Regions from separate parts of the Homo sapiens genome. Here region 2 is linked to region 1. The links come from fine-mapping of genetic effects on gene expression. A gene starts in region 1. The other region holds a variant in brackets. All regions are shown on one strand. Distances are between the middles of the regions. Region 1 holds the start of CLIP1 (CAP-Gly domain containing linker protein 1). Region 2 has its middle 35 kb from the start of CLIP1.

What was found. PIP is the estimated chance that this variant, and not a neighbour inherited with it, causes the effect.
Region 2: its variant is fine-mapped to the expression of CLIP1 in whole blood (TOPMed, PIP above 0.99).

What each region holds. Positions count from the first base shown.
Region 1 is chr12:122,416,775-122,429,141 of GRCh38, forward strand. It overlaps CLIP1 (CAP-Gly domain containing linker protein 1), which reads right to left and starts at 5,895. Exons shown (of 26, transcript NM_001247997.2): 1 at 5,747-5,895. RefSeq lists silencers at 5,192-5,591, 5,612-5,961 and an enhancer at 7,071-7,170.
Region 2 is chr12:122,451,286-122,463,652 of GRCh38, forward strand. No RefSeq gene overlaps it. Among named protein-coding and RNA genes, the nearest start is that of CLIP1, 35 kb to the left of the region's middle. RefSeq lists enhancers at 6,696-6,745, 6,776-6,835, 6,856-6,905. The variant A/T (reference allele first, on the strand shown) is at 5,821.

The DNA.
Region 1 (12,367 bases):
CTGTAATCCCAGCTACTTGGGAGGCTGAGGCAGAAGAATTGCTTGAACCCAGGAGGCAGAGGTTGCAGTAAGCAGAGATCACGCCATTGCACTCCAGCCTGGGCAACAAGAGCGACACTCCATCTCAAAAAATAATTATAACAATAACATGGTGCCCAGGTGTGGTGGATCACACCGGTAATCCCAACAGTCTGGGTGGGAGGATCTCTTGAGGCCAAGAGTTCCAAAAAAAAATTTGCTGGGCCAGGCGCAGTGGCTCATGCCTGTAATCCCAGCACTCTGGAAGGCTGAGGCAGGCAGATCACCTGAGGGTCAGGAGTTAGATCAGCCTGGCCAACATGGTGAAACCCCGTCTCTACTAAAAATACAAAAATTAGCCAGGTGTGGTGGCATGTGCCTGTAATCCCAGCTACTTGGAGGCTGAGGCAGGAGAATCGCTTGAACCTGGGAGACGGAGGTTGCAGTGAGCTGGGATTGCTCCATTGCACTCCAGCCTGGGGGACAAAAACAAGATTTTGTCTTAAAAACAAAACAAAACAAAACAAAACTTACTGTGTGTGGTGGTACACACCTCCTAGCTACTTGGGAGGCTGAGGCAGGAGGACGGCTTGAGTCCAGGAGTCCAAGGCTATAGTGAGTTATAATTGTGCCACTGCACTCCAGCCTGGTGACCGAGTGAGACTCTGTCTCTAAAAAACAAAAGCAATTTTTTAAAAAGGCATAAAATTATTCTGCCTTTTTTTTTTTTTTTTTTTTGAAACGGAGTCTCGCTCTGTCGCCCAGGCTGGAGTGCAGTGGCGAGATCTCCGCTCACTGCAAGCTCCACCTCCTGGGTTCACACCATTCTCCTGCCTCAGCCTCCTGAGTAGCTGGGACTACAGGCACCCGCCACCAAGCCTGGCTAATTTTTTGTATTTTTAGTAGAGACGGGGTTTCACTGCGTTAGCCAGGATGGTCTCAATCTCCTGACCTCGTGATCCACCCACCTCGGCCTCCCAAGGTGCTGGGATTACAGGTGTGAGCTACCGCGCCCGGCCAAATTATTCTGTATTTTTAAATATTTCAACAAATACATATTTTAAGGACTACAGCCTAGAAAGTCTTCAATGTCCTGCCTCCTCCTTCCTTCTCCCTAGGATGTTTTTCTCTCTGGGCTCTACATTCCTTCACTTCCTTTCTGTCTCTACTCGAAAGTCACATTCCCAGCTAGGTCTCCTCTTGCTGCCCTATGTAAAATTTCCATTCTTCTAACTCTTACCCCTAGTACTTTATACTTTCCCTTCTCTGATTGTTTTTTCTTTGCCATGTGTCACCTAACATACAATAAATTTACTTTTTGTTTATTGTCTGCCTTCTCTACTTGAAGGGAAGTTCCAAGAGAATAACAGGGATTTCTGTCTTTTATTCACTGTTGTATCACCATCATCTAGAACAGCACCTGGCACACGGTACATGCTCAATAAATATTTGTTGCCTGAATACCAAATGAGATCTAATTACAGCCCACAGATAGGTATACCATAGCTCATCAAGCTGCCTTTAGGGATGCTGTCACAGTTCAAAAATACTGCAAAAGAGAACTATAGATTTGCCATAATAAACAACACTGTCTACTCTTCATATCAAAGAAAAACACACTTGACCTTCCATCTCATTTCTACAAGAAAAGGAAAGAAATTGATTATTTGGATAGTGGGGCTGGGCACGGTGGCTCATGCCTGTAATCCCAGCACTTTGGGAGGCCAAGTTAGGAGGATTGTTTGAGCCTAGGAGTTCAAGACCAGCTTGGGAAACATAGCAAGACCTCATCTCTACAGGAAAAAAAATTTTTTTAATTAGCCAGGCATGATAGCATGCACCTGTAGTCCTAGCTACTCAGGAGGCTGAAGTGGGAGGACTGCTTGAGCCCAGGAGGGAGTTCAAGGCTGTAGTGAACTACGATTGTGCCACTGCACTCCAGCCTGCGTGACAGAGCGAGACCCTGTGTCTAAAAAAATAAAATAAAATAAAAATACTGCAAAGGAGAACTACAGGCTTGCTATGACTAATAAACATTGTCTACTCTTCATATCAGAGAAAAACACATTTGACCTCTCAGAGAAGAAAGAAGCTGATTATTTGGATAGTGAAAAGTCATACAAAGTGAAAGTCTCGATTTAGTTAATATATAGACAAAATTCTCTTGTAATGTTAACAAATATTAAACCCTCTCCCTGTGACTTTACTATACTACCTTCTGTTTTTTCCTTTGGTTTGACTTCTATAAAATCAATCTGACATTTATGAACCTTATATTTTCAATTAACCAAGAAACAGATGGGCACGGTGGCTCACACCTGTAATCCCAACACTTTGGGAGGCCAAAGCAGGTGGATCACTTGAATTCAAGAGTTGGAGACCAGCCTGGCCAACATGGTGAAACCCCAGCTCTAGTAAAAATACAAACATTAGCCAGGCATGTGACAGATTCCTGTTGTCCCAGCTACTTGGGAGGCTGAGGTGGGAGAATCACTTGAACCAGGAGGCAAAGGTTGCAGTGAACCAAAATTGCACCACTACACTCTAGCCTGGGCAACAGAGTGAGACTCTGTCTCAAAAAAAAAAAAATTAATTAAAAAAAAATAAGAAACGTTTACTGAGTACATGGAACTCCACAGAATTCTGCAAGGGTCCCGAAATGTGAAGACCCTGGCCTTGATATATCTATTCAAGGAAGACCAGAAATCTACCTGTAAGTAATAACGAAGAACCAGGTGCCCAGTATGTGAAAGGTTCAAAGGTGCCTACCTTTGTATGGGCCATAAGAGAATCAACTCATCTCTTATACACCATCCACTGGCTTTCGAATCCCAGCAGACAGCACTTAAAAAGCAAGAATCGGCCGGGCACAGTGGCTCATGCCTGTAATCCCAGCACTTTGGGAGGCCGAGGTGAGAGGATCACTTGAGGTCAGGAGTTCGAGACCAGCCTGGCCAACATCGTGAAACCCTGTCTCTACTAAAAATACAAAAACTAGCCCGGTGCCGTGGTGTGTGCCTGTAATCCCAGCTACTCGGGAGGCTGAGGCAGGAGAATTGCTTGAGCCTGGGAAGCGGAGGTTGCACCACTGCACTCCAGCCTGGGCAACAGAGCGAGATGCGAGACTCTGTCTCAAAAAAAAAAAAAAAAAAAAGCAAGAATCAAACATGACTGAGTTAGTTCATGTCCCTTATGAGTCACATGGGATGTGACAGAGTGAATTTTAGCCACTAGGTAAAAAAAATTTTTTTTAAGATAAGGACATCAGGCCAGGCGTGGTGGCTCACACCTATAATCCCAGCACTTTGGGAGGCTGAGGCAGGCGGATCACCTGAGGTCAGGTGTGATCAGCCTGGCTGGCCAACGTGATGAAACTCCATCTCTACTAAAAAAATACAAAAAATTAGCCAGGCATGGTGGCAGGCACCTAAAATCCCAGCTACTCGGGAAGCTGAGGCAGGAGAATCGCTTGAACCCAGTAGGCAGAGGTTGCAGTGAGCCGAGATCACTCCATTGCACTCCAGCCTAGGCAACAAGAGTGAAATTCCATGTCAAAAAAAAAAAAAGAGATAAGGATATCAGATTCTAAACTCCTCAATAGGACAGAAACCAGATTAGCTTATGTCATGCTGAAGTGCAAGCTGGAGCTGAAGCAATGATTGAAAAAATAGGGAAGGGCAAAATCTTGATCTTCAGGCAAAATACCTACCCAGGGTCCCACCCGGTTTCAGTTTTCCCCTTTGAACTAGGTCTAGTGGGAAGATGTACTTAACTGCTTTCTCTGAACCTTAAAAATCGGGCACAAGCCTTTGGCCAAGCAATTACCCACTTCAACTTTGCTTTAATGTAGACCAGCCTTGGGGCCAGGTGCGGTAGTTCACACCTGTAATCCCAGCACTTTGGGAGCCCAAAGCAGGTGGATGACTTGAGCCCAGGAGTTCGAAATCAGCCTGGGCAACGTGGTGAAACCCCATCTCTACCACAGATACAAAAATTAGCCGGGCGTGGTGGCGGGCACCTGTAATTCCAGTACTCAGGAGGCTGAGGCACGAGAATCGCTTAAACCTGGGAGGCCGAGATTGCAGTGAGCTGAGATCACGCCACTGCACTCTGGCCGGGGGGACAGATTGAGGCTCCCTCTCATTGATTGATTGATTGATTGATGGATGGATAGACAGACAGACAGACTAGCCTTGCTTTTTGCCACAGATTCCCTATACTAATCGAATAACTAAGCACCTGAAGTCAGAATACCTGAGTTCACATGCTGGTAAAAGGTATTCTGACTTCAGGTGCTTAGCTGTATAACCCTGGTCAAGTTACTTGACCTTTCTATGACCCTCCTGCCGAATGCACATGACGACAGCACGCTCACTGGGTTAGGGTTGATTAAATGAAATAAAACACATAAAAAGCTAGCCCAGAGCCTGGCCACAAGATGCCTTCAATAAATGTTCATTGTTATAATTTACAGAGAAAAAAAGGCCCCAAGTCTGAGAAGCGACATGCCTGGGGATTCTTGCTAAAGGTTATCATTAAATCTAAAAGTCAAACAAACACATTCCTGACTCTGGGATACTCTCCTGATTCGTGGATACCATCGCTAACAGTAGTGACACAAATCAAATAATAAGAACAGCCAGAATCATAACCCTAATGACAGCAGTGGCCACAGCACTTAATACTTATAGAGCTGCTAGGGGCCACTGTCCTAAAAGAGGAAGAAGGCCAGGCTGCTGAATCACACACACACAATTACAGAATCTTCTCCACCCTTTGTTTTAAAAAACAGTTCACTGGCGCCCAAGTTTTGCTAAAAACAGGTATCTAAACCGATGACGGACAACGTGTAATTTCTTCATACCAAAGAGGTGGGGCTGTGCAGGGAGGAGGGGGTGGCGCTCGGCTCCTGCCAGATGGAAAAGCCACATGAAGTGGAGAAACAGCCGGATTCAGGATTCACCCCCGAATCAAAACCCGATTTTTGAAAGGCAGGACCTTCCAATTCGGGCAATCGCTAGGTTCTGCTTGTAAAATAACCTCTGAACAAGTGTCATCTGCCTTCCGCGCCAATCCCCTGCCGCGGTAGAAGGTTCGGATTACCGGGCAGCGGTGTGATTTCGGAAACCCGAGAGCGATCTGGCCACCTCCAGCCTTCCCCGGTCTCCGAGAATCACAGCCCCACTTGAGAGGAAAACAAAAGCCGGGGCAGCGGGGGAGGCCGGGCCAGGGTGCCCTCCATGCCGGATCGCGGGCGCCGGGCACCCGGGGCCTGAGGAATGCTCAGGTGACAGGCGCGGCGCCCGGGGCAACAGGTCCCGCCCGGCTTCGGCCTCCCGGGGTCCGGCCGATCCCACATCCGCCCCGGGGCCCAGGAGAGGGAGCGGGGCGCCAGGGAGAGAGCGGCGCCTGGGGCGGCGCAGGGGCAAGGAGTCCAAGCTCCATCTTGAGGCGGGCGGAGGAAGCGAAGGCCCGGCTCGGCGCTGACAGGGCCGCCACTTTTCCAGCTCCGGAGGAGCCCCCCAGGGACCCCCGGCCTCCGGCGCCGGCCACCCGAGACTCCCGCGGTCCCCTCCCGGACGGCTCCGGCGCGCGAGGCTCGGCCCCGCTCCCGGACGCCGGGCTTCGACCCCCGACCCGACCCTGGGCGGGCCCCGCAGGCCGGGAAGCCGGCAGGGGAGCAGGGGGTGCCGGGAAAGGGAGAGGGCCCGCGCCGCCCCCTGCTCACCTCCTCGGACGCCGCCGGTCGCCGCCACCTGTCCCACTGCAGCAGCAGCAGCCGCCGCGGCCGCCGCCTCCCGCCTCCCGGCTCGTCGGCTCGGGGCGGGGGAGAGCGTGACGCGCCGCCGCCGCCGCGGGGCCGGGCGGGCGCGCGCTGCCAGGAGAAGACGCCGCGCGGCTCCTCCCAGCGCTCCGCCGCCGCGCCCGCCCGGCCGGCCCGGCCGGCCCGGCCCCTCGAGTCCGCACCGGCCCTGCGGCCCGCGCCCGGCCCCGCGCCGCCCCGCCGCCTCTTTGTCTGCGCCCACCGCGGCCCCGGGAGGACCCTGGCCCCGGCGCGCCCGCCGCTCCGCCCTCGAACCCTCCCGAGCCCCGGCTTGGGGAGCAAGGTGCGAGGGAAAACCCACAGGCCTGCTCCGAGGGGCTTCTCGTCATTTCTGCAAAGTGTTCCCAGAATTTGCAAGTCACACCCAAGAGCCCCATTCAGCCTCGACCTCAGCCCGCTCTTTGGGGCTGATTCATTTGTTTGCCCTCCCCTTCCCGCCAGACAAGGGTGAGAAATCCTTTGAAACAGGCTGCAAGGCGCTTCCGAAGCAGGTTAAGTTGGGGATTGGGAAGGATCATCTCTGCCCTCGCCTCCCTCCAGGGAAAGACCCTGGATGAGGCGTCCCTGGAGAAAATGCTGAAAGGAACTGTAGAGCAGGTTAAGCTTGGGAAGAACTGTATCTGCTCCCCACTTCCCTCCGGGAACGACCGCGGGTTAAAAATCCTTTGAAACGATCCCAGGGTTTGCTCCGTTCGTTTGAGAAAAGCCCCTTTTATTCGCCCTGGCTGCTTGGACGGAAGCCCTGGTTAGTGTCCCATCCTCCTTCCCCCCTGGGATTTCCTTTAAAAGCTTTTGAAAGGGACAGGAGGGAAGGCTGCAACAGCCTGCTCGGGGCTGGGGTAGCAGAGGGCGGCCAGCATTTCACTCCCATGGACCATGGCAACCCCAGAAGCCTTACATCTCCAGGGAGGAATTTGCAGCTGTCGGGGAAGCCCAGGATTTTGTGGTGGATAAGGGGGCAGGGGCTTCCTCCTCCTTGCCAGTAGAAGAGAATAATCGGCGGGTGACCCCTCTAGCTGACCTTTATTCAAAGCACCGTGCTGCCTGGACCAGCAGGAAGAGGGAACTGCTCTGGTAATGCACGAAGTTCTGAACTATGTAAATTTGTCTCCTGGCCCCTCCTCTCCATTCATGTCTGAAATCCCTCGAAATGCTGTTACCTAATTCAACATCGCCCTAATTTACAGGCTGCAAGGTCAGGTGGTGGTGGTACTCCTGAAATCCCATATCCATATTCCTAATCTGAAAGGCGCGCCTCACCCCCTAATCTAAACAGTCTTCAGCTGTAATCAGCAAGCTGTGGAATCATAGATGTCATAGGATGAGGCACAGACCACTTCTAATGGGGGAGTTCAGCTAGGAACACTTATGGGCTTGTCTTTTCTTCTCTACTCAGTAGGCTGAGCCTGTCTTTATTAAAAATATTGTTTTGGGGCTGGGTGTGGTGGCTCACGCCTGTAATTCTAGCACTTTGAGAGACCCAGGTGGGTGGATCACCTGCAGACAGGAGTTCAAGACCAGCTTGGCCAACATGGTGAAACCCCGTCTCTAACAAAAAATACAAAAATTAACTGGGCATGGTGGTGCATGCCTGTAGTCCCAGCTACTCGGGAGGCTGAGACACGAGAATTGTTTGAACCCGGGAGGCGGAGGTTGCTGTGACCAGAGTTCAAGCCACTACACTCCAGCCTGGGTGCCGGAGGGAGACTCTGTCTCAAAAAATATATATATATATACACATGTATATATATATGTATATATATGTGTGTGTGTGTGTGTGTGTATATTTGCTTGTTCTCATGGGTTATTCTATGTCATTGTCATGTTCATCATTTGCTTATTTATTTATAATTATATCATTTTGTTCATCATGGAGTCTTGGCGTTAATTTTTTTTTTTTTTTTTTTTTTTGAGATGGAGTCTCACTCTGTCGCCCAGGCTGGAGTGCAGTGGTGCGATCTCGGCTCACCGCAAGCTCTGCCTCCCGGGTTCACGCCATTCTCCTGCCTCAGCCTCCCGAGTAGCTGGGACTACAGGTGCCCGCCACCACGCCCGGCTAATTTTTTGTATTTTTTTAGTACAGACAGGGTTTCACCGTGTTAGCCAGGATGGTCTCGATCTCCTGACCTCGTGATCCGCCTGCTTTGGGCTCCCAAAGTGCTGGGATTACAGACGTGAGCCACCGTGCCCGGCCATTAATTTTTATTTTTTAAAAAATATATCAGCCGGGCACAGCGGGCTGATCACGAGGTCAGGAGCTCGAGACCAGCCTGGCCAATATAGTGAAACCCCGTATCTACTAAAAATACAAAAATTAGCCGGGCATGGTGGCGCATGCCTGTAATCCCAGCTACTAGAGAGGCTGAGGCAGAAGAATTGCTTGAACCCAGGAGGCGGAGGTTGCAATAAGCCAAGATAGCACCACCGCACTGCAGCCTGGGCGACAGAGGGAGACTCTATCTCCAAAAAAAAAAAAAAAAAAAATTAGCATATCGCAATATTGTTTACCTTCACTGCCTCCTTCAATTGTGTGAGCAAGGCCTGGTCTCAGCCCTACTACCAGGGCATTGACAGGGCTCAGACCCCAGGTGGCCACTGTTAGGACTCAAAGTTCCTCCTTCAATATTTACATTCTGTTTTTAGATCTAGCCACTGTGCTTTTTTTTTTTTTTTTTTTTTAAGACTGAGTCTCGCTCTGTCGCCCAGTCTGGAGTGCAGTGGCACCATCTCGGCTCACTTCAACCTCCGCCTTGCAGGGCCAAGCTATTCTCCTGCCTCAGCCTTCCAAGTAGCTGGGACTACAGGCACGTACCACCATACCCAGCTAATTTTTTGTATTTTGGGTAGAGAGGGGGTTTCTCTGTGTTATCCAGGATGGTCTCAATCTCCTGACCTCGTGATCCGCCCACCTCGGCCTCCCAAAGTGCTAGGATTACAGGCATGAGCCACCGCGCCCGACTGCCACAGTGCTTTCTTAAATGCATGTCTTCTGTAAATATGAGAACAGCTCAATTGATGAGACATTGGGAGGTGGAAGGGATGTTGCAGAAGTAGAATGCAAAATAAGAGCTCTCAAGTCTTCATTTTACAAAGCGGGGAGGTAGGTAAATACCTAGGGTTTTGTTTTCTGTTTTTTTTTCCCCAAAAAATTAAGGTTTAATGATATCATTAACGTAACCAATAGGAATAATTAAAAATAGTGGCAGGATTGTGTGGAGAGGAGAGGTAGTCGTGCCTTAGTCATAACAGAAAGTCAATAGATAATGCCTACAGTTGATAAATAACACAAGTATATTTTTATGTATTTTTGTTTTTGTTTTCTTGAGATGAGGTCTCATTCCTGTCACCCAGGCTGGAGCGCAGTGCTGCAATCATGACTCCCTGCAGCCTCTACTTCCCGGGATCAGATGATCCTCCCACCTCAGCCTCCTAAGTAGCTGGGACTACAGGCATGCACAGCCATGCCCAGCTAATTGTTTGTATTTTTAGTAGAGATGGAGTTTTGCCATGTTGCCCAGGCTGGTCTCAAACTCCTGGGCTCAGGCAACCTGTCCCCCTCAGCCTCCCAAAGTGCTGGGATTACAGGCGTGAGCCACCGTGCCTGGCCCACAACAATATTTTTAGAGAGATGGAAGTTAACACCAGAAGAACTAAAAGCAAAAAATTAATAGTCTCTGGGGAACAGGGTTAAGACTAGGTAGGAGTGAGGTAGAAGAACTGAGAACTGTTGCTTTTCTTTTCTTTTGTTCTTTTGTTTTTTTGTTTTTGTTTGTTGTTGTTGTTTTGTTTTGTTTTGTTTTGTTTTGAGACAGGGTCTTGCTCTGTTGCCCAGACTAGAGTGCAGTGGTGCAATCATAGCTCACTACAACCTGGAGCTCCTGGGCTCGAGTGATCCTCCTACCTCAGCCTCCAGACTGGTTCAGACTACAGGCACGTGCCACCATGCCCAGCTAATTTTTTTTAATTTTTAGTAGAGCCAGAGTCTGTCTATGTTGCCCAGGTCTCAAAATCCTGGGCTCAAGCAATCCTCCCATCTTGGCCTCCCAAAGTGCTGGGATTACTGGCATGAGCCACCATGCCCAGACTGCTTTTAATTATAAACCTGAATGTATTTTATTTTTTAAAACCATGTGCAAGGCCAGGAGCAGTGGCTCACACCTATAATCCCAGCAATATGGGAGGCCAAGGTGGGAGGACTGCTTGAGCTGAGGAGTTGGAGACCCACCTGGGCAACATAGCAAGGCCCCATCTCTACCAAAAAAAAAATATAAAAAATTGGCCGGGCACAGTGACTCACACCTATAATCCCAGCACTTTGGGAGGCCGAGGCAGGTGGATTGCCTGAGCTCAGGAGTTTGAGACCAGCCTGGCCAACATGGCGAAACCCAGTCTCTACTAAAAATACAAAAATTAGCCAGCTATGGTGGCATGCACCTGTGGTTCCAGCTACTCAGGAGGCTGAGGGAGGAGAATCAGTTGAACCTAGAAGGCGGAGGTTGCATTGAGCTTGCGCCGCTGCACTCCAGCCTGGGCAATAGAGCGAGACTCCATCTCAATAAATAAATAAATAAATAAATAAATAAATAAATAAATAAGCAAGCTGGGTGTGGTGGTGTGCACCTGTAGTCCTAGCTACTCAGGAGGTAGAGGTGGGAGGATGGCTTGAGCCCAAGAAGTTGAGGCTGCAGTGAGCCGTGTTCCAGCCACTGCACTCCATCCAGGCTGGGTGACAGAGCAAAGCCCCATCTCAAACAAACAAAAAAACATTACTTTCATTTATTTGTTGTTGTTGTTGTTGTTGTTTTTAAACATGGAGATGAGGTCTCACTATGTTGCCAAGACTGATCTCTCCTTGGCTCAAAGGATCTTTCCGCCTTGGCCTCCCAAAATGTTGGGATCCCAGGTGTGAGCCACCACACCCAGCTCATTTTTTTTTTTTTGAGATGGAGTCGCGCTGTCACCAGGCTGGAGTGCGATGGCGCAATTTCAGCTCACTGCAACCTGCGGCTCCCAGGTTCAAGTGATTCTCCTGCCTCAGCCTCCTGAGTAACTGGGACTACAGTCACGCGCCACCACGCCCAGCTAATTTTTGTATTTTCAGTAGAGATACTGTCTCTATTTTCAATAGAGACAGTGTTTTGCCATGTTGGCCAGGCTGATCTCCTGACCTCAAGTGATCCATCCACCTTGGCCTCCCAAAGTGCTGGGATTACAGGTGTCAGCCACTGCACCCAGCCCCAATTTCTTTAAAAAAAGAACAAAAGAAGAAGAAGAAGGAATTAAGATCCTCAACCAAAATGAGTAGAGATTATTCTCCGTAAAATCATGGGTGTTGGTGGTTTTTTTCTCCCCAGCTCTTTAGCATTGATTCTGTGACAGGTTTCGGCAGTACAACAGGTTTGTTTTGTTTTATTATCTGTTTCCTTCCATCCCTACAAGAACGTGAATTTCCAGAGAGTGGGGAATTTTTTTTTTTTTTTGAGAATGAGTCTCTGTCGCTCAGGCTGGAGTGCAGTGGTGCAATCTTGGCTCACTGCAACCTCCGCCTCCTGGATTCAAGTGATTCTCCTGCCTCAGCCTCCCGAGTAGCTGGGATTACAGGCACCCACCACCATGCCCAGCTAATTTTTGTATTTTTAGTAGAGACGGGGTTTCACCATATTGGCCAGGCTGGTCTTGAACTCCTGACCTGTGATCCGCCTGTCTCAGCCTCCCAAAGTGCTGGGATTACAGGCGTGAGCCACTGGGCCCAGCGAGAGCAGGGATTGTTGACTCTTATTTCTTGCTGTGTCTGCATCCCTTGGATGCAGGGTCCACAGTAGATTAGCTTTTTGAAGGATGTGGTGTAAGACTCCTATATTCTAAATAACTAGAGACTTTTTTCCTTGTATTTTGTCTTCTTTTTTTTTAAAGAACAATAGGTGTTCATTACATAAAATTAAGGCAAGCAAAATGAAGGCAACAAAATAGCTACAATCCCACAGATCCTGAAAAAATTACTAATAAATATGTCTAAATTAATTCATTACAGTTTAGAGAGATTTTAAATCTCTCGCTAAGGGACTAATAGTTCTTATCACCATTCAAGGACAATACAGTAAAAAATAGTGGTTTGAAAATATTTCTTGTTTTGTTTTGTTTTGTTTTGTTTGAGACTGAGTTTCGCTCTTGTTGCCCAGGCTGGAGTGCAGTGGCATGATCTCGGCTCACTGCAACCTCCATCTCCCGGATTCAAGCGATTCTCCTGCCTCAGCCTCCCGAGTAGCTGGGATTACAGGCATGTGCCACAACGCCCAGCTAATTTTTTTTGTATTTTTAGTAGAGATGGGGTTTCACCATATTGGTCAGGCTGGTCTCAAACTCCTGACCTCAGATAATCTGCCCACCTCGGCCTCCCAAAGTGCTGGGATTACAGGTGTGAGCCACTGCACCCAGCCAAAAATATTTCATAAACTGCGCCTGTGATCCCAGCATTTAGGGAGGCCAAGGTGGGTGGATCACCTGAGGTCAGGTGTTCAAGACCAG
Region 2 (12,367 bases), 35 kb after region 1:
CCACATGGCGAAACCCCGTCTCTATAAAAAATACAAAAATTAGCCGGGTGTGGTAGCACCTGCCTGTAGTCCCAGCTACTTGGGAGGCTGAGGCAGAGAATTGCTTGGACCCAGGAGGCGGAGGTTGCAGTGAGCAGAGATCGCACCACTGCACTCCAGCCTGGGCAACAGAGCAAGACTCTGTCTCAAAAAAAAATTAACAAAGTATATATATATAAATATATGTATTCCAGTAACAATATAAAATGTAACATACATATATGTGTAATATAGTTTAGTTAACATGTATTACAAAGAAAAGTTAATATATTAAATAATACATGTTATATATTATCTATTACAACTTATCTTTTATATATACACACACACCCACACTCTTTAGTTAATACATATATTAGGGGAATATATAGATAGACCTCTAGATAGACCTCTTTCCATATCAGAAGATGTAGATTACCTTATATTAAAAAAATTTTTTTTGAGACAGAGTTTTGCTCTTGTTGCCCAGGCTGGAGTGCAGTGGTGCAACCTCTACTCACTGCAACCTCCACCTCCCAGGTTCAAGCAATTCTCCTGCCTCATCCTCCCGAGTAGCTGGGATTACAGGTATGCGGGATTACAGGATAATTTTGTATTTTTAGTAGAGACGGGGTTTCTCTATGTTGGCCAGGCTGGTCTCGAACTCCCAACCTCAGGTGATCCACCTGCCTCGGCCTCCCAAAGTGCTGAGATTATAGACATGAGCCACCACGCCTGGCCCCATATTTTAAATTATTTAATTTTTTTTTTCCCTAGAGATGAGTTCTTGCCATGTCGTTCAGGCTGGTCTTGAACTCCTAGGCTCAAGCGATCCTGCTGCCTCAGATTCCCAAAGTGCTGGGATTACAGGCGCGAGCCACTGTACCCAGCCTCCTCATTTTTTTAAACCATTGCGTTGTAAGATCATAGTGTGCTATGATTTCAACAGATTCCTACCAATAGACATTTAGGTTATTTTCAGTACTTGCTACTACACACATTGCCACAATAAACAGCCTTGGGTGCATATATAGTATACTCGTATTTCTTTTCTTCTTAAAAATGTTTTTTGTCTTACCAAGAAGCTTGAATCTGAAGCGCATACAGTGTGCTTTTACAAACATAGTTGTAGGATTAATGCTTAGATTAGAACCACTGAATCTAAAATATGTACATTTACATTTTTAAAAAAATTACCCTCCCAAAAAAGAGTGAGCCAATTTATATCCCCACCAATAATGTATGAGAATGCCTGTTCCCCTCTACTTTAACCTTTCTTAAATGTAAAACCAATCTTACTCCATCAAATACAGGCCATCAGAGCCTACCTGGAAACAGCTATGCATATGTTCCTGTCAGATAAAGCCATTTGAATCCCAAATGAAATTCCTAAAGCTAAAAGGAGATAAGGGTGCCTAAATCTGCTGGGACCAGTCAGATGTTGAGGTTTATGCTCTGCTGGTCAAAAATTACCTTACATTTTATTAGAGTTTACATCAGTTATCACGATTTCAGCAGCTGGTCTAACTCAGACTAGCGGAGACAATAAGGAGACTCATTAGCTCACAAAACAGGACGTTTGCAACACGGTTCAGCTTCAGGGCTGGTTGATGTAGTGGCTCAAGCCGCTAAATTTCTCAAGCACCCAAAATCTTTTCTTCTCTTTCTCTGCCATTTGCGGAGGTGGCTTCATCCTTCATTCAACCATCCTAAGGTAAGATGGTTGCCAGAGCAATGGATATGATATATGATACATTTCTGTCTCATGCGTTGTGTGAGGAGACCACCAAACAGGGTTTGTGTGTGCAGCAAGGCTGTTTATTTCACCTGGGTGCAGGCGGGCTGAGTCCGAAAAGAGAGTCAGCAAAGGGTGGCGTGATTACCACTAGTTCCTTTAGGTTTTGGGATAGGCGGTGGAGTTAGGAGCAATGTTTTGCAGGCAGGGGGTGGATCTCACAAAGTACATTCTCAAGGGTGGGGAGAATTACAAAGAACCTTCTTAAGGGTGGGGGAGATTATAAAGTACATTGATCAGTTAGGGTGGGGCAGAAACAAATCACAGTGGTGGAATGTCATCAGTTAAGGCTATTTTCACTTCTTTTGTGGATCTTCAGTTGCTTCAGGCCATCTGGATGTATTCGTGCAGCACAGGAGATATGATGGCTTAGTTTGGGCTCAGAGGCCTGACAATTTCCTATTCATGCTTTCTTGTGGTTTGCTTTGCTTTTGCTTTTGCTTTTGCTTTTTTTTTTTTTTTTTTTTTTTGAGACAGAGTCTCACTCTGTCTCCCCAGGCTGGAGTGCAGTGGTGCAATCTTGGCTCACTGCCACCTCTGCCTCCCAGGTTCAGGCGATTCTCCTACTTCAGCCTCCCTAGTAGCTGGGACTACAGGCCTGCGCCACCACACCTGGCTAATTTTGTATGTTTAGTAGAGACGGGGTTTCGCCCTTTAGGCCGGGCTGGTCTCGAACTCCTGAACTCAGGTGATCCGCCTGCCTCGGCCTCCCAAAGTGCTGGGATTACAGGTGTGAGCCACTGCTCCTGGCCTTTCCTATGGTTTTCTAAGTGTGCGTGTGCATGCACACACACACGTGCACGCACACACGCACCCTCTGGCATGCATCTCCTTGGCCCAGGTGGGCCCAGATGGGCCCAGGTCTGTCCACCCTGAATATACCATGATCAGGGTAAAGTGAGTATTGCACAGTCAACTATAACATTCACTACTGTGCTTCCATTTTCAAAGACTGAAGCAGAGACTACCAGAAGTCCCGCCCCCCTCAAAGCCATTCTACCCTCTTCCTGTATCTGATTCTTCCTGCCATGTGACATCCAGAATGAAGACATTTCCTAACTTCCTGTGTTATTAGGGATGGCCATGAAAATAAGTTCTGGCCAAGCTGAAGTAGCCCATGCAACCTCTTGGAAGTGTGTGTGTGTGTGTGTGTGTGTGTGTGTGTGTGTGTAAGAGATGGAGGCTTGCTCTGTTGCCCAGGCTAGAGTATAGTGGCATGATTACAGTTCACTGCAAACTTGAACTCCTGGGCTCAAGCGATCCTCCGGCCTCAGCCTTCGAGTAGTTACGATTACAGGGGTGAGCTACAGTGTCCAGTCCAGGCAGTTTTCTTAAAGGGAGAGGGCAAACATTTATCTTTCTTTTCTCCCTCCTGCTGATAGGATGTGATATTGTGACATAATAAGAAATAGGCCGGGCATGGTGGCTCACGCCTGTAATCCCAGCACTTTAGAAGGCCAAAGTGGGCAGATCACTTTCGGCCAGGAGTTTGAGAGCAGCCTGGCCAACACAGTGAAACGCCGTCTCTACTAAAAATACAAAAGTTAGCTGGGCATGGTGGCACATGCCTGTAATTCCAGCTACTCGGGAAGCTGAGAAGGAGAATCACTTGAACCCGCGAGGCGGAGGCTGCAGTGAGCCAAGATCGCACCACTGCCCTCCAGCCTGGGTGACAGAGCGAGACTCTGTGTCAAAAAAAAAAAAAAATAGAAATATACATTTTGATCTTTGTTGCCCCTGGCTTCTGGCCAGAGCTCCTAAAACCTTTGCAGTTTCTAAAGCAAAAAATGTTAGGAGCATCTTTCGTTCTACCATTTGGTCTTTGACCCTGTCTCCTAATACGAGCGCCTAATCCTTTGGAATTTTCTGGGTGACAGGAAGACCTATTGTTCTAATGAAGCCAAACTTGGTGGGCTCTTGGATAGCTTCAGGATGGGGGCTGGTCACCAGAATGACCAAACCATGATTAGCATCCTGAAACTTTCAGCCTCACCCTCCGTCTTCTGGGTGAGGGGAAAGGGCTGGAGATTAAGTTAATAATGGATCACGCCTGCATGAAGAAGTCTCCATAAAGGCAGAGTGTGGGGACTCAGTCTGTAAACCTAGCACTTTGGGAGGCTGAGGCAGGAGGATCACTTAAGCCTCTGGAAGTTGAGGCTGCAGTGAGTCGTGATCATGCCTCTGCACTCCAGCCTGAGTAGTGACAGAGCAAGATGCTGTCTCAAAAAAAAAAAAAAAAAAAAAAAAAAAAAGGCTGGGCGCAGTGGCTCACGCCTGTAATCCCAGCACTTTGGGAGGCCAAGGCAGGCGGATCACCGGGTCAGGAGATCAAGACCATCCTGGCTAACATGGTGAAACCCCATCTCTACTAAAAATACAAAGAAATTAGCCTGGTGTGGTGGTGGGCGCCTGTAGTCCCAGCTACTCCCAGGAGGCTGAGGCAGGAGAATGGCGTGAACCCAGAAGGCGGAGCTCGCAGTGAGCCGAGACTGCACTCCAGCCTGGGTGACACAGCGAGACTCCGTCTCAAAAAAAAAAAAAAAAAGAAAGAAAAAAGAAAAGAAAAAGAAAGAAGGAAAGGCCGGGCGCAGTGGCTCACGCCTGTAATCCCAGAACTTTGGGAGGCCGAGGCGGGCGGATCACGAGGTCAGGAGATCGAGACCATCCTGGCTAACATGGATAAACCCCGTCTCTACTTAAAAAAAAATACAAAAAATTAGCCAGGCGTGGTGGCGGGCGCCTGTAGTCCCAGCTTCTTGGGAGGCTGAGGCAGGAGAATGGTGTGAACCTGGGAGACAGAGCTTGCAGTGAGCCGAGATCGTGCCACTGCACTCCAGCCTGGGCGAAAGAGCGAGACTCCGTCTCAAGAAAGAAAGAAAGAAAGAAAGAAAATCTCCATAAAAATCTCTGAACTTGCAGGCTAGTAAACGCCCACATGCTGGGGGTGTGGCGCACCCCTGCTCCCCGGGGACAGAAGCTCCTGTATTCAGACGCTTCTGCACCTTGCCCTATGTACCTGTTCATCTGGCTGGCCAGGTATATCCTCTATCACATTCTCTATAATAAACTAGTAACTGAAAATGTTTCCTTGAGTTTTGTAAGCCATCATAGCAAATTATTGGACCTAGAAAAGGGGTCATGGGAGCCTCGATTTGTAGTCAAGTCAGACAGAAGTCTGAGTAAACTAGGGACCCACTACTTGAGATTGGCAACCGAAATGGGGGGAAGTCTTGTGATACTAAGCCTGTGGGGTCTGCTCTAAGCTCACGTCATTTGTGTCATAGTTGAATTGTGGAACCCCCAGTTGATGCCTGGAGAGTTGAAGAGGGGGTTGGTGTGGGAAAAACCCCACACATCTGGTGCTGGAAGTGTTGAGTGTTATAGAGAAAACCATTTGCTAGGCTGAGAGCAGTGGCTCACGCCTGTAATTCCAGCACTTTGGGAGGCTGAGGGAGGATCCTTTGGGAAGATTGCTTGAGCCCAGGAGTTCAAGATCAGTGGTAATATAGTGACACCCTGTCTCCACAAAAATAAAAATAAAAAAAAAGCCAGGTGTGGTGGTGTGCGCCTGTGGTCCCAGCTCCTCAGGAGACTGAGGTGGGAAGATCACCTGAGCCCAGGACGTCAAGGCTGCAGTGAGCTACGATCACACCACTGCACTCCAGCCTGGGTGACACAGCAAGACCATGTCTCAAAAAATACGACCAGGCGTGGTGGCTCACACCTGTAATCCCAGCACTTTGGGAGGCCAAGGCGGGCAGATTACTTGAGGTCAGGAGTTCGAGACCAGCCTGTGCAACATGGTAAAACCCTATCTCTACTAAAAATACAAAAATTAGCCAGGCATGGTGGTGCACACCTGTAGTCCCAGCTACTTGGGAGGTTGAGGTGGGAGGATCACCTGAACCTGAGGTGGGAGGTTGACGCTGCAGTGAGCTGTGATCAGGTCACTGCACTCGTGCCTGGGTGACCTAGGGAGATCCTGACTCAAAAAATAAAATAAATTT[A/T]AAAATACAGTTTTTTTTCCCCTATACACTGAAGTACAGGTGTAATGACTGGTCCTAGAACCATCATGTTGACCCCAGCAAGCGACCCTGTGCCACTTTTGGACCCCTGTTATGGGTTGGCTTGTGTGCCCTCCAAAGAGATATGTTAAAGTCCTGCCCCTGGGCCAGGTGCGGTGGCTCACGCCTGTAATCCCAGCACTTTGGGAGGCTGAGGTGGGCGGATCATCTGAGGTCAGGAGTTCAAGACCAGCCTGGCCAAATGGTGAAACCCTGTCTCTACTAACAATAACAAAAATTAGCCTGCCATAGTACCCAGCACCTGTAATCCCAAATACTCCGGAAGCTGAGGCAGGAAAATCCCTTGAACCTGGGAGGCAGAGGCTGCAGTGAGCCGCGATCGCACCTCTGCACTCCAGCAACAGAGCAAGACTTCATCTCAAAAAATAAAATAAAATAAAAAAGTCCTGCCTCCCAGCGCCTTGGAATGGGATCTTAGGAAACAGGGTCTTTACAGAAGTAATTGAGGAGGTCAGTGGGGGTAGGCCTGACTCCAATATGATGGGAACCTTCTGAAAAGGAAGTTTGGGCACAGACACGTGTGGACACACAGGACAGATGCCATAAAGGGAGAATCCATGGGAACAGGGAGGACGGGGTGCATATGCAATCTAATGAATGCCTGGGGACACCAGAAGCTGGGAGGGGAGCAAGGAACAGTTTCTCCCCTGGAGTCTTCAGAGGGACCAGGGCCCTGCTGACACCTTCACCTCAGACTTCAGCCCCACAACTGTGAGACAATACATTTCTCTTCTTCAAATCCACCCAGGTTTTTGGTAGTTTGTTATAGCAGACCTAGGAAACTAATAAAAACCACCTACTTTTGGTTTTTGTTTGTTTGTTTTTTGAGACAGTGTTTCACTCCCATCACCCAGGGTGGAGTGCAGTGGCGTGATCTCGGCTCACTACAACTTCCACTTCCTGGGCTCAAGTGATCCTTTTGCCTCAGCCTCCTGAGTAGCCGGGACTACACGCATGCACCACCATACCCAGCTAATTTTTTTTTTTTTTAAGTAGAGACAGGGTTTCACCATATTGGCCAGCCTGGTCTCAAACTCCTGACCTCAAGTGATCCACCTGCCTTAGCCTCCCAGTGTGCTGGGATCACAGGCATGCGTCACTGTGCCCGGCCGTGTGTGCGTGCATGTGTACGTGTGCGTGCATGTGTATGTGTGTGTGTGCGACAGGGTCTCGCTGTGTCACTCAGGCTGGAATGATATGGCACAATCAGGGCTCACTGCAGCCTCAACCTCTTGGGCTCAAGCAATCCTCCAACTTCAGTCTCCTGAGTATATGGGACTACAGGTGTGCAACACCACACATGGCTAATTTTATTTATTTATTTATTTATTTATTTATTTATTTATTTAATTTTTTTTTTTTTTGAGACAGGGTCTTGCTCTGTTGCCCAGGCTGGAGTATAATAGTGTGATCTTGGCTCACTGCAGCCTTGACCTCCCGGGCTCATGTGTGTGCCACCATGCCCAGCTAATCTTTGATTTTTTGTAGGGTTTCGCTATGCTGCCCAGGCTGATCTTGAACTCCTGGGCTCAAGCTGTCCTCCTGCCACGGCCTCCCAAAGTGCTAGGATCACACGCATGAACCTCCATGCCTGGCCCGAAGCTCTTTCATGTATTGATCGTTCTGATTCATCACACTAGTATTTATCACACATGGCAACTCTCTGGCTGCTGAGAATTTGTCCTTGGTTTCTGCTTGAGAAGCACTTCATTTAGAAGTTGCTTTAGGCCTAGCATGGTGGCTGGAAGGCCCAGGAAGGTGGATCACCTGAGGTCAGGAGTTGAGACCAGCCTGGCCAACATGGTAAAACCCCAACTCTACTAAAAATAAAAAAATTAGCCGGGTGTCTTGGAGGGCACCTGTAATTCCAGCTACTCCAGAGGCTGGGGCAGGAGAATCACTTGAGCCCAGGAGGCAGAGGCTGCAGTGAGTCGAGATCGTGCCATTGCACTCCATCCTGGGCAAGAGAGCAAGACTCTGTCTCAAAAAAAAAAAAAAAAAAGAAAAAGAAAAAAATTCCTTTAAGGGCTAGGTGCAATGGCTCACTCCTGTAATCCCAGTACTTTGGGAGACCAAGGCAGACAGATTGCTTGAGCCCAGGAGTTTGAGGCCAGCCTGGGCCACACAGCAAGACCTTGTTTCTACAAAAAAAATTTTTTTAATTAGCCAGGCATGGTGCCATGCACCTGTAGTCCAGCTACTCAGGAGGGAAGATAGCTTGAGCCCAGGAGTTTGAGAGTGTAGTGAGCTGTGATTGCGTCACTGCGCTCCAGCCTGGGCAGCAGAGCATGACCCTGTCTCTTAAATAAATAAATAGAAATAGAAATAGAGTCAGGCATGGTGGCACATGCCAGCCAGTAGTCCCAGCTACCCAGGACACTGATGTTGGAGGGGGGGTATCCCTTGAGCCCTGGAATTTGAGGCCAGCCTGGGCAATATAGCAAGACCTATCTCAAAAAGATAAAAATTCAAAATAGCAGTGACTTTAGGATTTAACTTTGCAGTAGCATGATAATAAACAGTATGTGGGCACTGAAATTACACAGCAGCACGTGGTTGTGTGGTAGTGCATCATGACCAGGAATAAGATCATGATGTCTGAGGCCGGGTGCAGTGGCACACGCCTGTAATCCCAGTAACTTTGGGAGGCTGAGGTGGGTGGATCACCTGAGGTCAGGAGTTCGAGACCAGCCTGGCCAACATGGCAAAATCCTGTCTCTACTACAAATACAAAAATTAGCTGGGTGTGGTGGTGCACGCCTGTAACCCCAGCTACTTGGGAGGCTGAGGTAGGAGAATCCCTTGAACCTGGGAGGCAGAGGTCGCAGTGAGCCGAGATTGCGTCACAACACTCTAGCCTGGGAAACAGAGCGAGACGCTGTCTCAAAAAAATAAATTAAAAAAAAGATCTTAATGTCTGATTTTTCATTATCATTGAAATGAAAGCAGAAAATATAAAAATTTATCAGGGCCAGGCACAGCAGCTCACGCTTGTAATCCCAGCACTTAGGGAGGCCAAGGTGGGCAATCACTTGAGGCCAGGAATTCCAGACCAGCCTGGGCAACGTGGCAAAATCCTGTCTTTACTGAAAAAAAAAAAAAAAAAATTAGCCGGGTGTGGTGGCGTGCACCCGTGATCCCAGCTACTCAGAGGCTGAGTTGGGAGGATCACTTGGGCCTGGGAGGTCGAGGCTGCAGTCAGCCAAGAGTTCACCACTGCTCTCTAGCCTGGACAACAGAGAGACCCCCCGTCTCAAAAAAAAATAATTATGTGGAGAACTTGTGGATTTCTGAGAGACAATTTGTCTGTAAACTCTGTGTTGAGAACTATTGCTATAGCATAGCCCTATATAGTAATATAGTATAGTAGAGTTTACTGTAGGGTTGACTGTACTCAGTGTCTGGCGAGATAAGGCCAATGTTGACTATGAAATGCTCATCTCATTCTGGAAGTCTCGGACTCCTCAGAGATCACAGAAAACAGGAAAAGATGAACATGGATGCAATTCTTTGGAAAAGATTCTGCCTGTCTGTAAGGATGAGAATCAGCTAACTGGGGCCTTCCACAAAGTCCCTCAAACTGGGTGGCTTAATCAGCAGAAATGTAGAAACATATTCTCTCAGTTCTCAGTTTTGTTTTGTTTTTTTGAGACAGAGTCTCACTCTGTTGCCCAGGCTGGAGTGCAATGGCACGACCTCAGCTCACTGCAACCTTGGCCTCCTAAAGTCCTGGGATTACAGGGGTGAGCCACTGAGCCCAGCCATATTCTCTCAGCTTTCAAGGCTAGAATTCCCAGGTTGGCTCCTTCTGGGCACTCTGAGGGACGGGCTGTTCCATGCCTCTCTCACAGCTTCTGGCATTCCTTGGCTCATAGATGCATCACTCCAGTCTCTGCCTCCATCTCCACATCGCTTTCTGCCTCCATCTCTCTGTGCCAGATTTCCCTCTTCTTATAAAGACATCAGTCTTATAAAGGCGCAGTGGCTCATGCCTGCAATCCTAGCACTTTGGGAGACTGAAGTGGGAGGATCTCTTGAGCCCAGGAGTTTGAGACTCACCCAGGCAGCAAGGCAAGACTCTGTCTCTATAAAAAATTTAAAAATTAGCTGGGCATGGTGGTGCTTACCTGTGGTCTCAGATACTTGGGAGGCTGAGACGGGAGGATCACTTGAGCCCAGGAGGTAGAGGCTGCAGTGAGCGATGTTTATGTCACTGTGCTCCAGCCTGGGCAGCAAAGGGAGATCCTGTCTTAAAAAAAAAAACTGGGCTGTAAAATCGAGCTTGTGTCTGTAATCCCAGCACTTTGGGAGGCTAAGGCGGGTGATCATCTGAGGTCAGGACTTCGAGACCAGCCTGGCCAACATGGTGAAACCCTGTGCTACTAAAAATACAAAAATTAGCCGGGCATGGTGGCAGGTGCCTGTAATCCCAGCTACTAGGGAGGCTGAGGCACAAGAATTGCTTGAACCTGAGAGGCAGAGGTTGCAGTGAGCCAAGATCGCATGACTGCACTCCAGCCTGGGCAACAAGAGCAAAACTCCGTGTCAAAAAAAAAAAAAAAATTGTCAGTCACTCTTATGTCCTAACAGAATGTATTCAGTATTCAATTAAAAGACATTTTGGTTCAAAAAAATTAAAATTTAAAAAATTAGCCTGACAACATGGTCAAACTCCATCTTTACAAAAAATAAAAAAATTAGCCTGGCATGGTGGTGTACACCTGTTGTCCCAGCTACTCAGGAGTCTGAAGTGGGAGGATCTCTTGAGCCTGGGAGGTGGAGGTTGCATTGAGCCAAGATTTTGCCACTGCACTCCAGCCTGAGCAACAGAGAGAGACCCTGTCTCAAAAAAAAATTATTTTTTAATTAAAAATCAATACAAGAAATGGTTGAAAAAGGAGAAAGCTACTGACCAATATTTTAATAAACATAGATACAAAATCCTCACCAAAATACTAGCAAACTGTATCCACCAATATATAAAAAGGATTAAACAATATGATCAAATGTGATAGAATACAAGGTTGGTTCAACATCTGAAAATCAATTAATGTAATACATTGAATCAATAGAATGGACAAAAACTGCATGATAATCTCAATACGGAAAATGTATTTGACAAAACTCAATACTCCTTCTTGATAAAAATACTCAACAAACTGGGAAATGAATACCACCCATTCCTACCATAACTGATGAATATTCAGTGGATCATTTATGTTTTGTGCCTGCAGTTATTTACCTATTCCTTTGTAAAACACACTTGGTCGCAATTTCTTCTAAAGAGCACAACAAGGCCTATCTTTATCTAAACATCCTAAAAACACTCAGGAGTGAGTCATTTACACAAAGCACATTAAATATACTGGCAATTTTACTCTGAGCATCAGAATAAAGAAGGAGCTTAGAAAATTGCTTCAGTTCAGGCCGGGTGCGGTGGCTCACGCCTGTAATCCCAGCACTTTGGGAGGCCGAGGCGGGCAGATCACGAGGTCAGGAGATTGAGACCATCCTGACTAACATGGTGAAACCGCATCTCTATTAAAAACACAAAAAATTAGCTGGGCATGGTGGCAGGTGCCTGTAGTCCCAGCTACTCGGGAGGCTGAGGCAGGAGAATGGCGTGAACCTGGGAGGCAGAGCTTGCAGTGAGCCGAGATCACGCCACTGCACTCCAGCCTGGGTGACAGAGCGAGACTCCATCTCAAAAAAAAAAAAAAAAAAAAAAAGAAAGAAAATTGCTTCAGTTCATCAAAAATGAAATGCAAGTTTGCAAGTTATGATGAAGGAAGCTCAAGTAAGGGCAAAACACAGACCAAGGAGTTGGAAGGATGGCTGGGTGCAGTGGCTCTGGCCTGTAATGCCAGCACTTTGGGAGGCTGAGGCAGAAGGATTGCTTGAGCCCAGGAGTTCAAGAGCAGCCTGGGCAACAAACTGAGACCCCATGTCTACAAAAATAAAAATGAGGCTGGGCGCAGTGGCTCACGCCTGTAATCCCAGCATTTTGGGAGGTCGAGGTGGGAGGATCACAAGGTCAGGAGATCCAGACCATCCTGGCTAACACGGTGAAACCCTGTCTCTACTAAAACTACAAAAAATTAGCCGGGCGTGGTGGCGGGCACCTGTAGTCCCAGCTACTCCGGAGGCTGAGGCAGGAGAATGACGCGAACACGGGAGGCGGAGCTTGCAGTGAGCTGAGATTGCACCACTGCACTCCAGCCTGGGCGACAGAGCAAGACTCCGTCTCAAAAAATAAAAATAATAAAATAAATAAATAAATAAAATAAAAATGAAAAAATTAGCCATGCATGGCAGCATGTGCCTTTAGCCCCAGCTCCTTGGGAGGCCGGGCAGGAGGATAGCGAGAGCCCAGGTGTTCGAGGCTATAGTGAGCTATGATCACATCACTGCACTGAAGCCTGGGCAACAGAGCAACACCCTTTCTCTAAAAAAAAAAAGAGTTGGAAGG